Linked DNA regions of Homo sapiens. The protein of the gene in region 4 purifies or fractionates together with the protein of the main gene of each other region. This does not show direct contact. Each region holds a gene or a part of one and is shown on either strand. Other genes may lie near its edges.

Region 1 (4,196 bases), on a different chromosome or scaffold from region 4:
TCCGTGTCCCTCTGTGAGTTCACTGTGGTGTTTTGAGGTGCCTTCATATACAGCTGGGAAATTCATAGTTTTGACTGATTGACTGATTGATTGAGACAGGGTCTTGCTCTTGCTCTGTGCCTAGGATGGAGTGCAGTGGTACATTCGTGGCTCACTGACACCTCGAATCCTTGGCTGGCCTCATGTGATCGTTCAGTCTCAGCGTCCTGAATAACTGCGACCACAGGCATGTACCACCACACTTGGCTAATGTTTTAAAATTTTTAGTAGAGATGAGGTTTCACTTTGCTGCCCAGGCTGGTCTTGAACTCCTGGGCTCAAGCGACCCTCCTGCCTCAGCCTCCAAAAGTGTTGGAATTACAAGCATGAGCCACCACACTTGGCTGGAAGTTCCTATTTTTGAACACCTATTACTCATCAGAGCTGAATGTAGATGATCATTTATCACTTAAAATAATGATATGATACAGGTAGTGTGGTTTTACCAATTCTCCTGATGTGGCAAGGGAGCCTCTGAGAGGTTACACTTCCTGTCCAAATGTTCCTGCAAATTATAAATATCTATCTCCCAACGTGCTGCATACGTTTGATGAGATCTCATGTTGGGACAAAGATGAGAGTAACATGAACTTTAAGCCACATCTTTGCTGCCTGATTTTAGAAAGATAAAATTCACACATTTTGCCTTAAACAGAACCAGTAAGCCTTGCAGATGTTCTGTAAGAAATGTCTTTGTCCCCACATTATGCCAATTTGCTGTTTAATGTCTCTCCTGTGATAGATCATGACCGTATTCATTCTTGCCCCGGGACAGATCCTAAGATCTCCTCCCACCCTGCTTTAGAGAGATGCCCTGTTGGGGCAAAAAGCTCTCAAACTGTGGGAGATTTCTGCTCAGAAATGGGAAGAGGGAGAAAAAGAAGCTGGGAGCTCTCACCCAGGGCATCAAAGGCAGGCAGCACATCGAACTCCACCCCCTCCCCGAGCTGGAGCGAACTCAGTACGAAGCTGAGCGCACGGGGGTTGCCCCAGCGTGGAGCCTGGACCTCAAACTTCACGGAAAATGCTCTCTCTCTTTGACAGGCTTCCAGCTGTCTCCTAATTTCCTGGATGAACTCTCCCCGGCGATTTAACTGATCCTGAAAAGTGGTGAGAGGACTGAGGAAGACAACCAGGTCAGCGTCAGATCGGCCTCTGAGGGTGGTGCCCTTGCCTGAGGAGCCACCCTGAAAAAGACGACAAAAATAATAATTGATGCTTAGTGAGGCAAACCTCCCTAAATAAAATGACAGGAGCAATCACTAACATTATGGAGCACTAGCCACTGTTCTGAAGGCATTGCATGTCTTAAACTCCTATAATGCTCACAATGATGCTATGATTTGGATGCCATTATCATTAGTTCCCATTTTACAGATGGGAAAATGGATGCTCAGTGAGATAATATATCAGCCCCATCACCCAGCTAGTAGGTGGCAAATACAATTCAAACCTGGGGGCCTTCTTCCAGGATCTGTGTTCTTTTCCCATTGTCCTTTACGATGCCCAGGACTAGCTTATGCTGGGTGGTTCACACTTACTATTTTACTTAATCTACACGGCCCTATGAGGTATTGAGGGAAAGTAGAGGAAAAATCAGTTAGGTAAATGGTCAAGGCTGGGCCCTGGAGGAGCGGCCTGCCTGAAACTGGCGCAGGGAGTGGGACTTACCTAAAACAAATCCACAGTTATACATACAAGAGAAGCAGCGCTTTATGCTTGCCTAGAGATATACCCACAGCTGCATAAGGTAAGGGAAGTTGCACAGCTTTACTGATAAAAAGTTTCTCAAACAGTTACAGGGAGGAGAGTGGTTTCTTATAAAAGTTTTTTGCATTCAGCTGCAATCTGGCAATCCACTCAGACTTCCCTCTCCACAGTGGAGACAGCTTTCTTCTTTTGCTTACTGAACTTTTGCTCCAAGCTCACGTTTGTGTCCATGTTCCTTAATTTTCTTGGATGCAGGACAAAGAACCTTGGGTACTAATTCAGTGAGAAGCTGCTACATTAAGGTGCACTGGCAAGACTGCAACAGTATTGGGGATTATGGCTGAGGAAATTGGAACACAGAGTAGTTAAGTGACTTGCTCAAGGTCTTGCAGCCAGCAGGTGCTATTTGCTTTCAAAACATATGATTCTTCACTGCAGAAATGGTGAGCCCCTAGCCTGGCCACGAATTAGCAAACTGTTTACCAGAGCTGGGATTCAGTTCCCTATTTCTGAAATGGGCATCGCCCAGGACAGTGGTTCATAAACTTCAGCGGGAAGTAGGGGGGAGGGTCACTTGTTAATAATAGGGATGTAGGATTTCACCCCAGAATCTATTTTAACATGCTGTGTGGATAAATAAGAAACCACCATCCCAGAAGATCTCAGCTCTCTGTACTCACATTTGCACCCTGGGTTCTAGGTTTTTGCTTCTCTCTCTCTCTCTCTCTCATTCTCAATCTCAACTCTTGCACATTCAGCCACCCCTCCCCTGGCCAGGCAGGCCTGGACTCACCTTTACCACCTTGGACACACACACAGGGTAGGAGCTACCTCGGAAGCACCTTTCCTTCAGGAACCCACAGATGATGTCAATGGCATGGTTGATTTGCATGCGGAAACACGTGTCTGGCAAGAGATAGTCTTCAATGAACTTGTCCAGAGATTTGGCTGGGGTATTTCTGAGATCCATCATTGACAGGAGAGAGAGTGGCAACAGAACTGCCTCCCAGACCTGTTTGCTTTTATCTCTTCTGCTGACTGAGCTTGGACTGCTGTTGGTTTCGTTTCCTCAGAAGGGAGGAGCTGTCTTTGCACTTTCCTTTTGCAAATCAGACACTCCCCTGATCCCAGTGCTGAATTTCATCTGCTCACTCTTCTGCTTCCTGAAACTTACCCTTTGTCCTTTAGCCAGCAACAAGCAGCCCAGCCTTTCTCTGAACTCTGCTCTGGAAATGCATTTTAACCTCCAGCCAACATAAATCTTATTTAACAGATTTTGTGTTTCCTTCTTTATCTTTTTTTTGTTGTTGATGAAATCCTTTCACAGTTGTCTGTGGTATTTTCCAGCAATACATGCCCACTGCAAAAAGAAAAAAAGTCAGAAAAACCAGGAAGTGGAAAGATCATCTATGATTCTAACACTACAAAATTGCCTCTATAAACGTTTTGATATAGAGCTTTCCAGATTTTTTTCAAATGTTAACACACACACAAACACAGGTCTCTTTTCTTTTTGTTAAGAATGGTATTATACTATGCTTTTTTCCCTTTCAATTAGTAGATTTTTATTTTATTTTATTATTTTTTGGAGACAGGATCTTGCTTTGTTATCCAGGCTGGAGTGCAGGGGCATGATCATGACTCGTGCAACCTCAACTTCCTGGGTTCAAGGGATCCTCCTGCCCCAGCCTCCTGAATACCTGGGACTACAGGCATGCGTTACTGCACCCAGCTCATTTTTTATTTTTTGTAGAGACAAGGTCTTGCTATGTTGCCCAGGTTGGATTTTATTTCTCACAGCAGTTTTAGGCTTACAGAAATATTGAGCTGAATGTGCAGAGAGTTCCATAAGCTCTCTCTCCTGCCAATAAGTTCCTCTATTATTAACAGTACTGTGATACATTTGTTACAATTGATGAATTGATATTAATACATCATAATTAACAAAAGTCCATTTACATTAAGGTTTACATTAAGGTTCACTCTTGTGTCCTACAGTTCTATGGATTTTGCCAAACATAACATGTCATGTATCCACCATTACAGCACCATGCAGAATAGTTTTGAGATAGGAGGTGGGGCTTGACTCAGGGCCAGATTGAAGACTGGCTGGCATGAGCACCAGCACCATGAACAGTTTACTCATTCCCTGGCAATGACCCAGTTACCACCCTTCTTCTAGAAATTTCTGAATAACCTGCCCTTAATTTGCACGTATTTAAAAGTGGGTATGAATGTGACTATAGAAGTGCCCTGAGCTGCTGCTCTCCAGGCACTGCCTATGGGGTGGCCCTGCTCTGCAGGGACAGTCACAGAACTGTAACCCTGCTGCCTCAATAAACCTTTTTCTTCCTCCTCTAGCTCACCCTTGAATTCCTTCCTGGACGAAGCCAAGAGCCTTCCCGGACGGTGTCCCAGTTTTGGGGCTCCCCTGCCCTGCAAGAGTT
Region 2 (3,500 bases), on a different chromosome or scaffold from region 4:
CAGGAGCAGATGGACAGAAGCCCTTGGAGAAGCCAGGGCCTCGGGAGTGAAGAGGGAGCTCTGGATGTCCAAGTTCCCTTCTCGGTTCCTGCCGGGGTGTTGCCCGTGTGCAGGAGCCTTAGCCCCGCAGGTGTGGGGGTTGCGGGCAAATGTCAGGGATGGGGGTGCCTTAAAGATGGAGAAACTGAAGCCCAGCGAGGAGCAGCACCACGACCCTGCCATTCTTGGGGCCCCATTTCCTCCGTCTCAGAGGGGAGCCTGTCAGATGCTGTGAGCCCTCGGGCCAGCCACCCTCTGAACACAAGGGACAGCAGGTTGAGGGCACAGGCGAGAGTGTGCACGCACCCTGAGGCCACAGAGAATGAAACATGAGGGTCGGTTTCTGCCCAGGAGACAGGTATGTTCTTGAGGCGGGCGCGGGGAAGAGGTAGAACTCTCAGGTGTCCCTGGGGCTGGGGGATCTCACTACCTCTGTAGCTCGTCTTTGAGCATTAATGCTAAGTCCCAGCACCCCGTCCACAGCACCCCAGCCTCAGGGTAACGAGGCCTGGTACCTAACCCACAAAGTGCTCGCTGGTAGGGAGTGTGCAGGCCAGACACTAAGGCATTCCAGTTCTCCCTGGCCCTGTGCCAGGCCACTAACTGGATCCGCTGCACTCAGGGACACCATGTACTATGGTCCCTGCTCTACAGGTGAGGACAGCAGCCTCAAAGAGCCCAGGCCAACTGCTTCCCATGGACTCGCTGCCCCTTCACAGGTCAGGAGTCCCCTGAGACAGCTCAGGGCAGCCTGGGACCAATGCCAAGTTCAGGAGCAGAGGAGAGGGCTAGAGAGGTGGAGGGTCTGCCGGCAGAGACAGGGTGCACCTGGGGAGGGCCAGGGCCACGGCTGGGTGGGGTGGCCCAGGACTATCTGAGTCAGGGAGATGGTGGCTGGAGGGTGGAAACCTTTGACTGGCAGCCCATAGGGGTGGGGTAGGGGGTCATGCCAGTCACCCACACAATGGCTGATGCTCACCCAGCGCTTGTGTACAAAGACCATCTAGGGCCAGCCATGAGCCTCACTTTACAGACGGGGTAACCAAGGTTTAGGAGGCAAATAAACTCTGCTGACCCTGGCACCTGGGGTGAAGAATTCCGGCTGCGTCTTCCTCGGCTAGGCCTTCTGATCAGATCCGAGGCGGTGCCTGCCACCATCACCACCATCAATCTCTTAGGCCCAGCCCCCTCCCTGCCCTGGCCCCACCAGCCCTCCAGAACAGGGTCACATGCCCCACCCTGGTGCCTGCTGGCTCTGGCTTGAATTTTGCTAAATTTGGGTGACTTCCTAAGGCAGCAGGGGGTGGGGTGGGGGTGAGGTTCATCCTGTAAGGAGGGCATCTAGCGTTCCTGCCCCACGGGCCAGCGTCGGGGCTCCTCTCCCTCTGGCCAATGTGGGGAGCCTCCCTAAAGTGCTCCCCTCCCGCCCAGGACCAGGAGCTGCCCCAAAGCAGCACAGTCCAGCAAGCAGGACGCCTGGACCCTTTAAACAACCCGACTGCTGCGCCGTATTCACCGCAATAGGCGGGCAGGAGCGGGACGCACTGCTTCCAGAGTCCCGGCCCTTTAAGCGACCCACACTCCCCGCGTCGCATTCACCCTAATAGGCGGGCATACAAATGCCGTTGCCTGGAGCCGCAGCCCAGCGAATGGGACCCACAGCGGCGCGCCCTTTAGTTGACTCTGTCTTATTCGCCGCAATAGCTGATCAGGAGAAATCCCGCTGGCTGCCAGGAAAGGGGCGCGGAGATGCGGATGCTCCGCCCCAACACCACGCCTTCCTCTGCTGACCATCCCCAAAGTCCCCTTTAAATGACAACCCTCCCCCCCCCCACCCCGCCCCCACACCGAGCGCCGTATTCACCCCAATAGCACATCAATCCCTCCGCAACGCCGGGATACTGAGCTCTCCCTCCCCTGGCCGAGGAAGGCCCTTCCCCGCGAGGAAGCAGCTGAGAATGGGCCAGCGAGAGAAGGGACAAAGGCACGGGCGACAGAGCTCCCTCTGTGCTGTCCCCCAGCGTCTGGAGGCCCGTTCCCGCCTTGCTCAGAAGCACAGGGCACTTACCAAGGGGCCATCCGTGACCAGCAGTCAGGGGCATGCTGTCTCCAAGCTGGGGTGGTGCTTCTGCTCTGCCAGGTACGGCAGCGCTTACTGAAGGTTTGCCATCTCCCCTGGCCTTGGATGAAGGGAAGGCGACCCCAGGCTGGTCACAACAGGCAGCCTGACCAGCTGCCTGCCGAGGTGGGGTATCCCTCAAATCTCCTCCCTGTTTTCCACTTAAAATCCCTAAGAATGTACATATTTAGAAGGAATACTGTTCAGTTGTTGAGCCTCAACTTTCCCCTTCATCCTTGTCTTCGTGTCAGCAGGGTGAGAGGGGATCTATGGACCAGTTAAGTCCATCTGCATTCACCAAACACACTATTAGGCATCCCGAGGAGGTGAGACACCCTAAGGGCTCCATTCCTAAATCAGAGATGATGGGACTCTGGGAAGAGTCACGCCCTCTTGTCCTTCCCATCCTAGAGCATGGAGGAAATGAGCTGGTCACGTCCCACACCAGCCGATGCTGGTGAAACCAGGACATGGTGGGTGGGACTTGCTAGATGGGGGCAGCCAGTCTCAATCTACTGACCTCCCTGGGATGAGACAGTATGACGGCTTTCCACATGTGCCTCACTTAACCGTAGAACACCTACTGTGTGCCAGCCCCTGGGAAGAGAGCCCGGAGCAGACTTGCAGGCAACCGTGCATGGGGACAGACACCGCGCACCAGCGGCACCCACCAGGGACAGATGCCACGCACCAGCGGCGCCCACCATGAACCTGGCTTGGCCCAATCGCTTTCTCCATAGGAAGCCATTCAATTAAACAAACATGACCATTTCAGTATAAATAAAGAGAAAACAAAACACAGAGCTGAGAGCTGCTTTGGAATGGGTAACGGGCCAGGAACAGAGACTCTCTCAGAGAGGCAGCATCTGAGCTGGGACCTGAATTAGATGGAGCCCACCAAATGCAGATCCAAGGAGGGGCCGAAAGCAGAGGCACAGGCAGTGCAAAGGCCCTGGAGTAAGAAGCCGGGGCTGACGCCAGACCCCTGTGAGCAAGGAGGGGAGAGGGAGGGGAGGGGAGGGGGAGAGGAGAACAAGGGAAGGGAGACAGAGTGGAGGGGCATCTAGGGCCTGTGGGGTCTGGAAAGGGGTCAGGACTTACTGAGACCCATGGCAAATCTCAAAGGGCTCTAAGTGGTCAAATTACATGAAGTGGTTTATCTTTTTAAACACCATGCTGGCTGCTGGCTGGAGAAGGGCTAGGAAGGCCACGAAAGGGGAGCCTACTAGGTAGCTGATGTGGAGCTCCAGGCAAGAGCTGGTAGGGCCAGGAGGGGAGTGGAGGCCAGCCCTGGAGGGAGTAGCCGGATGTGAGGTGGGCTGGGAGGCCGAGCAAAGCATTT
Region 3 (3,500 bases), on a different chromosome or scaffold from region 4:
TGTAAAACCCTGGTCTGATCCATAATTAGTCACTTACATGCGAAGTCTGGCGAGCTCTCTGGCCCTCTGCTTGTGGTGGACCCTCTGCTTGTGGTTAAGCTGGACTTATGGTGGACAGTGTCCCCTTTAGTTCTAAGAATCCCCTATCAATGGTGAACCTCTTTTTTTTTTCTTTGTATTTTCCTCAAGAACTGTGTGACAGAATATCTAGATGTGTGGTTGATTTTAATTTTTTATTTCATTTTATTTTTGAGACCGAGTCCTGCTCTGTTGCCCAGGCCGGAGTACAGTAGTGCGATCTTGGCTCACTGCAACCTCCACCTCCTGGGTTCAAGCGATTCTCTTGCCTCAGTCTCCTGAGTAGCTGGGATTACAGGCACATACCACCATGCCCGCCTCATTTTTTTGTATTTTTAGTAGAGACAGGGTTTCACCATGTTGGCCAGGCTTGTCCGGAACTCCTGACCTCAGGTGATCCACCTGCCTCGGCCTCCCAAAGTGCTGGGATTACAGTTAGAGTCTCCATGCCCGGCTGATTTTAAATTTTAAAATTAAGCCTTGTATAGCCTGGGCAACATGGTGAGACCCTTCCACAAAAATGAATAAATAAATAAAATTAACCAGGTGTGGTGATGTGTGCCTGTAGTTCCAGCGACTGGGGAGGCTGAGGTGGGAGGATCCCTTGAGCCCAGGAGGTCAAGGCTGCAGTAAGCTGTGATCATGCCACTGTCCTCCAGTCTGGGTGACAAAGCAAGACCCTATCTCTTAAAAAAAAAAAAAAAAAACCCAGGTGTGGTGGCCCATGGCCTGTTATCACAGCACTTTGGGAGGCCGAGATGAGAGGGTTGCTTGAGGCCAGGAGGTTGAAGCTGCAATGAACTGTGATTGTGCCAGTGCACTCCAGCCTGGGTGATAGAGCAAGTACTCTGTCTCAAAAAAAAAAAAAATTAAACTGGTTATGAAAGATTGCTGTATTGTCTTTTTCTACGTGACAAGCATTTGTTCTCCATCACGAATAATTCAGTCAAAATCAATTCATTTCTAAACAAAAAGAGTTAAGTTTTCTGTTTTTTAGACTTTACCATCCAGCACAGCTGACAGTCCATTGGCATTACTTTAAAGTAACTTTTTGATAACTGATTCCTAAATTGCTTTTTGAATTTGTTTATTCTATTCATTATTGTTTTGAAGGAAACCTTTGTCAAACCAATCCAAGCGTGGTAGTTAGTAAACTATGAATTTAACGGCACATTTCACCAGTAAGACCCTCCTTCTCAGTATGGTTGAAATCCAGTATCATTATTACTTGAGACAGGGTCTTGCTCTGTCACCCAGGCTGGAGTACAGTGATGCGATCACAGCTCACTGCAGCCTCAACCTCCTGGGCTCAAACGATCCTCCCACCTTGGCCTCCCCACGTTTTGGGATTACAGGTGTGAGCCACTGCATCTGGCCAGTGAAATCTATTATTTATCAGATCTATCTTCATGAAAATTTTGTCTTATTTAAAATAACATTCCAACCCCTTTTCTCTCCTTTAATTAACAGAGAAGTACAACAGTTCCATCCTGCTGTTAGAAACTCATCTGAGGTGAAATTTGCTGTTCAGGCTTTTGCTGCATTGAACAGTAATAATTTTGTGAGATTTTTCAAACTGGTCCAGTCAGCTTCTTACCTGAACGCTTGTCTTTTACACTGTTACTTCAGTCAGGTGAGTAAATGAGCTGTGCTTGCAGAGTTGGAAGAAAGCAGGTGGTTCTTGTGCTGTTTGGGTGCTTTCTTATTCCAAGCTTTTCAAAGGAGGTCTCAGGCTGATGCTGTGTCACCCTTGCAGCAGCCCCACGAAGGGGTTACCGGTGTTGCCCTGTTTTATAGGGGTTATCACTGTTGGTCACCATCCGGAAAGGCTGTGCAATGGAAAATACTGTTCCATGGTTCAAATAAGAAAAATCTCTTTGGGAAAACATAGGTTGAATTCAGCACTATCATCATCCATGAAAGCTAACTAAAAAGCAAAAATCTCATATCATATGCACAAAATCTCTGACTTTGAAATGCTTCATGTTTTAAATCGAAGTTTCTGGAGTGAGGCTGATGGCGCTAAGTTCCTTTCAGTGGGTGCCTCAGTGTCTGTGCTTTGCCGTGTGCTAGGGTTGCAGAGGCAATGGGAAGGCCAGTCCCTCCCCTGGGGTTTGCGCAGAGTAAACTGTGTCTTGGGGTTTCCAGTCGGTTATTTTGTTCCACTTCCACGGAACTTGGGGATGAGGACAGAGCAGCCCCTGTAGCACCTGCTGTTCTAGGCCCTGCATGATTCCGTTCAGTGCAATGTGACCAGGACCGCGGCCCACCGCACAGAGCGCCACCTCACCTCGCACACACTCTGCTGCCCATTCTGGCAGCGGCTCCAAGGAGGCTGCCAGGATTCCTTGCCACAAGCCCGTAGTGGCCACAGCGTGGGGAGGATGCTGCCTGGGAGATCCTGGGACCTGCCTTGGTTGATCTGTGGCTCCAGGTCATTTCTTTGGTCACACATCAGGGCCTCCTGTAAACAGTGACTAAACCCACAGTCATGTCACAGTCAGAAGGTCTTTTGCAGGTTTGCTCCTTGTCAGATCTGCAGGTTGCCAAACAGAACTGATATTCTGGAGTAAATGAAAAGGTTTTCCACAACTTGCCACTTGTAGTTAATATTGGCTGGGTGCTTTGGCTCACACCTGTTATCCTGGCACCTTGGCAAACTTGGGAGGTGGGAAAATTGCTTGAGCTCAGGAGTTCAAGGCCAGCCTGGGCAACATAGGGAGGCCCTGTCTCTACTAAAAATAAAAAAAAAGCCAGGCAGGTGTGGTGGGATGCTCCTGTAGTCCCAGCTACTCAGGAGGCTGAGGTGGGAGGATCGCTTGAGCCCAGGAAGTTGAGGCTGCAGTGAGCCAAGATCTGCACTCTCCAGCCTGGGCAACAGAGGCCCTCTCAAAAAAAATAAACAAAAATAAAACATAGTTAATGTTGTATACACGATGATTGAGCGTTAGTAGAATGTTGACCATTTTTAATAACTTTATTTATTTATTTATTTAGAGATGGAGTCTCGCTCTGTTGCCCAGGCTGGAGTGCAGTGGCATGATCTCTGCTCACCGCAACTTCTGCCTCCTGGGTTCAAGTGATTCTCCTGCCTGAGCCTCCCTCCCCAGTAGCTGGGACTACAGGAGCCCGCCACCACGCCCAGCTAACTTAGTAGAGATGGGATTTCGCCATGCTGGCCAGGCTGATCTCGAACTCCTAGCCTCAGGTGATCCACCCACCTCGGCCTCCCAAAGTGCTGGGATTACAGGCATGAACCACCTTGCCTGGCCGTTTTTAATAACTTTAAACAAAAGAGATATTCGGGTATTTTTCTTTAGAAAAGCTCTTCACCGGCAGTGGCGCACAGAGGCAGCCTCCTGTCCCCGCAGCCCTGTGCACTCCTGCTCAGAGGCTTTGTGCTTGCTGTTTCCACTGCTGTT
Region 4 (3,500 bases):
AACCTCAGTTGTTCACCCAGTAATTCATGCATTCAACAAACATTTATTTAATAAGTATGAACCAAGGGATGTTCCAGGAGTACAAAGGTAAGAAAGACCTGGTTCTTTCCCTTGGGGGGCTCATGGTCTCCCTGTCTCAGGTTTATTCTCCCACTAGACTGTGAACTCCTTACTGGTAAGACCTATGCCATTTCCATCTCAGTACTCCTAGTGCCTAGCACAGTACCTGGCACATATTCAGTGCTTAATACATGTTCGTTCAATGGGGAGGCTGAGGAAATCGAAGTACTAGCCCAGCCCCTGCCCTGTCTCCAGAGAAAGTGGAGAACCTATTTCTAGATGGTGACTGTCCTGTGTACAGGGTGGGCCACAGCTAGGGCCAGCCTCCTGCTGCCCCTTTTCACCCTCCCATTCCAGAGGCAGACTCACAGCCATTGCTGGGGTCCTCTTCCTCCTCATTAGGAAAGAGGTCATCCAGGGAATCCTTGGTGGCATCGCCTTCTTTCTCCTCCTGGAAGGGAAGAAGCAACATATAAGGGCCAAGATATCCCTACCTAGTAGCCTTCTCAGTGACCCCTCTAAGCCATGAAATCACAGACAGATGGGACCTAGGAGAAGACTGTTGTTCCTGTCTCTGCCCCTGGAAAGGCTAGCAAGTGGCCCAGCCAAGCTCAGGCCTCTTGTTTGTAACAGCCAGAGATGCTTTGGACAAAATCTCAAGACTTCCCCTCCTTCTCATACAGAAAGTTTCCTTCCTGGCCGGGTGTGGTGGCTAACGCCTGTAATCCCAGCACTTTGGGAGGCCGAGGTGGGCAGATCACCTGAGGTCAGGAGTTCAAGACCATCCTGACCAACGTGGAGAAACCCCATCTCTACTAGAAATACAAAATTAGCCGGGCGTGGTGGCGCATGCCTATAATCCCAGCTACTCATGAGGCTGAGGCAGGAGAATCGCTTGAACCTGGGAGGCAGAGGTTGCGGTGAGCCGAGATCATGCCATTGCACTCCAGCCTGGGCAACAAGAGCGAAACTCTGTCTCAAAACAAAAAAAAAAGAAAAAAAAAAGTTTCCTTTCTAACCACCCTCAATCTTGCCTTAACTCTTGTAATTATGGCCCTATGCTGATCTCTGTGTGTTTACGTTGATTGTATGTCTGTCCTGTCTCTCCTGAGGGAAGGGAGTGTGGCCGATCTTATTGACATGTACCCAGAAAGTGTCTAGCTCAGCCTGGTGCCCATCATCTGCACAGCTCATTCTGGACTTACTACGTAACCCTCCCTCACTGTCTAACCTATTCCGCACTAGGAAAATCTGCTTTTCCCCATCAGGAACTGCAGCCTCATCCAAACACCAACCCTCCTACCCAGCTTCACCAATGTGTCCTATGCAATTCATCTACTCACTTTCCCTGGGACAGACCAGCTTTTCCAGGCTGTAAGCCTTATCAATGACACCCTGCACTCCAGTCTAAAAAGCTGCTCCCTCTTCCTCATCATGAACTTTCAAAATCCATCTCAACTCCTAACCCACTCAAATGGGAAATCCAACCTATATCCTACCCATCCCTGTATCCTGCTTCCTCTATTTTTTTGTTTGTTTTTTGAGACAGAGTCTCTAGTCTGGCAACAGCCCAGGCTAGAATGCAGTGGCATAATCACAGCTCACTGCAGCTTCCACCTCCTGGGCTCAAGCGATCCTCCCACCTCAGCCTCCAGAGTAGCTGAGGCTATAGGTGCACACGACCACATCAGGCTAATTTTTTAATTTTTTGTGGAGACAGGGTCTCACTATGTTGCCCAGGCTCCCTGCTTCCTCTATGAATTCTTCTTAGACCATTCCAGCCCTCAGAGACATTTCTCTGTGAAATTCTTCCCACACTGACTGAACCACTCATCCAGCACTGAGCACTTGCTGCTTTGTATTTTGTCACATATATGTTCTCCTGGATAAGACTTGTTCCCTACAGATACATCTCAAGAAAACACACACTCTCAGCCAGGCGTGGTGGCTCACGCCTGTAATCCCAGCATTTTGGGAGGCCGAGGGCAGGCAGATCACTTGAGGCTAGGAGTTTGAGACCAGCCTGGTCAACATGGCAAAGCTCCATCTCTACTAAAAATACAAACATTAGCCGGGTGTGGTGGCAGACACCTGTAATCCCAGCTACTTGGGTGGCTGAGGCCCAAGAATTGTTTGAAAGCCAGAGGCGGAGGCTGCAGTGAGCTGAGATGGCATCACTGCATTCTGTTGAGCGAGGGTTAAATTTCACACATTTTGGACCGGGCATGGTAGCTCACACCTGTAATCCCAGCACTTTGGGAGGCCCAGGCGGGCAGACCACCTGAGGTCAGGAGTTCAAAACCAGCCTGGCCAACATGGTGAAACCCCGTCTCTAGTAAAAATACAAAAATTAGCCAGGCGTGGTGGCAGGTGCCTGCAATCCTAGCTACTCAAGAGGCTGAGGCAGGAGAATTGCTTGAACCCGGGAGGCGGAGGTTGCTGTGACCTGAGATTGCACCATTGCACTCCAGCCTAGGCAACAAGTGTGAAACTCCGTCTCAAAAAAAAAAAAAAAATTCACACATTTTGAAAGCAAATTTTAGGAGGGTCATGCTCAACTGGGTTATGCTTTCCCTAATTGTACCACGTAGAATTCTGGATTGGAATTGTCCAGGTGCTTATCTATCTCCCTCACAAGCTTGTAATTGTGAGAGCAGGAACTCTGTGTGCCCCATTCACCAGTGCAGTGCACAATGCCTGGTACACAGTAGGCATCTCATTAAATGTTGACTGAATTACCTGAATATTGTTTTTCCCCTTGCTGTCACCTGGAGTTGGTGTCAGGGCTGAAAAAGGAATTCTTTCAGGTGAGAGCAGGTTGGGTAGAGCTGATGGACCCTGAGGATGATGGGGCAATTGCCCCCATGTCTGTGGTAACTCCCGGCTGCCCACCCCTCAGCCAGTCTCGCCTGTGCACACTCACCGAGGTATGTCCATCCTCATCATACTGCCGCAGCTGCCCCAGGAACTCCAGGTGCTTCTTTTCCTCCTCCAGCTGAGCCACAGCCTGTTCACTGCGCTGTAGCCGCTGCTGGGTGCCAGCCAGCTCATCCCGCAGCCACTGGTTCTCCTGGCATAGCCGCCGCACCTGAGCCCGCAGCTTCTGTTTCTCCGACTCCACTGTGCTCAGGTGGCTGGCTAGAGCCAGCATCACCTAGGTGGGCACATCCCCTGAGCTCCAGATTCTGGGTGGGAGTATTCAGGAACAGGTGGAAGGGGAGCCTACTGGGACGTGGCAAGACTGGCAGGGGCACAGAGGAGCCAGAAGGTGGGGGTGTAGCAGTGGTGCTACCTTCAAAACATACCCTGAATCCAATTTCCCACTACCTCCACTGCTGTCACCCTGGACCAAGCCACTATCAATTCCTACCCAAATTATTACAATAACTTCCTCACTGGCCTCGTTTCTGCCCTTGTTCCCCTATTGTCTATTTGTAACC

The links. The genes of interacting proteins can lie anywhere in the genome.
Region 1: the proteins of KLC4 (region 4) and OAS1 purify together in Homo sapiens (co-immunoprecipitation; one large-scale study listed by IntAct). This does not show direct contact.
Region 2: the proteins of KLC4 (region 4) and OSBPL5 purify together in Homo sapiens (affinity purification with mass spectrometry; one large-scale study listed by BioGRID and IntAct). This does not show direct contact.
Region 3: the proteins of KLC4 (region 4) and MCM3AP purify together in Homo sapiens (affinity purification with mass spectrometry; one large-scale study listed by BioGRID and IntAct). This does not show direct contact.

What each region holds. Positions count from the first base shown.
Region 1 is NC_000012.12:112,905,566-112,909,761, reverse strand, and holds the start of OAS1 (2'-5'-oligoadenylate synthase 1), read right to left. Parts: upstream 2,801-4,196; 5' UTR 2,723-2,800; coding exon 2,543-2,722; intron 1,227-2,542; coding exon 938-1,226; intron 1-937.
Region 2 is NC_000011.10:3,158,811-3,162,310, forward strand, and holds part of OSBPL5 (oxysterol-binding protein-related protein 5), read right to left. Parts: exon of another isoform or gene 2,108-3,500; intron 1-2,107. UniProt on the Homo sapiens protein: Lipid transporter involved in lipid countertransport between the endoplasmic reticulum and the plasma membrane: specifically exchanges phosphatidylserine with phosphatidylinositol 4-phosphate (PI4P), delivering phosphatidylserine to the plasma membrane in exchange for PI4P, which is degraded by the SAC1/SACM1L phosphatase in the endoplasmic reticulum.
Region 3 is NC_000021.9:46,268,612-46,272,111, reverse strand, and holds part of MCM3AP (germinal-center associated nuclear protein), read left to right. Parts: intron 1-1,548; coding exon 1,549-1,711; intron 1,712-3,500.
Region 4 is NC_000006.12:43,062,631-43,066,130, reverse strand, and holds part of KLC4 (kinesin light chain 4), read right to left. Parts: intron 3,215-3,500; coding exon 2,984-3,214; intron 512-2,983; coding exon 430-511; intron 1-429.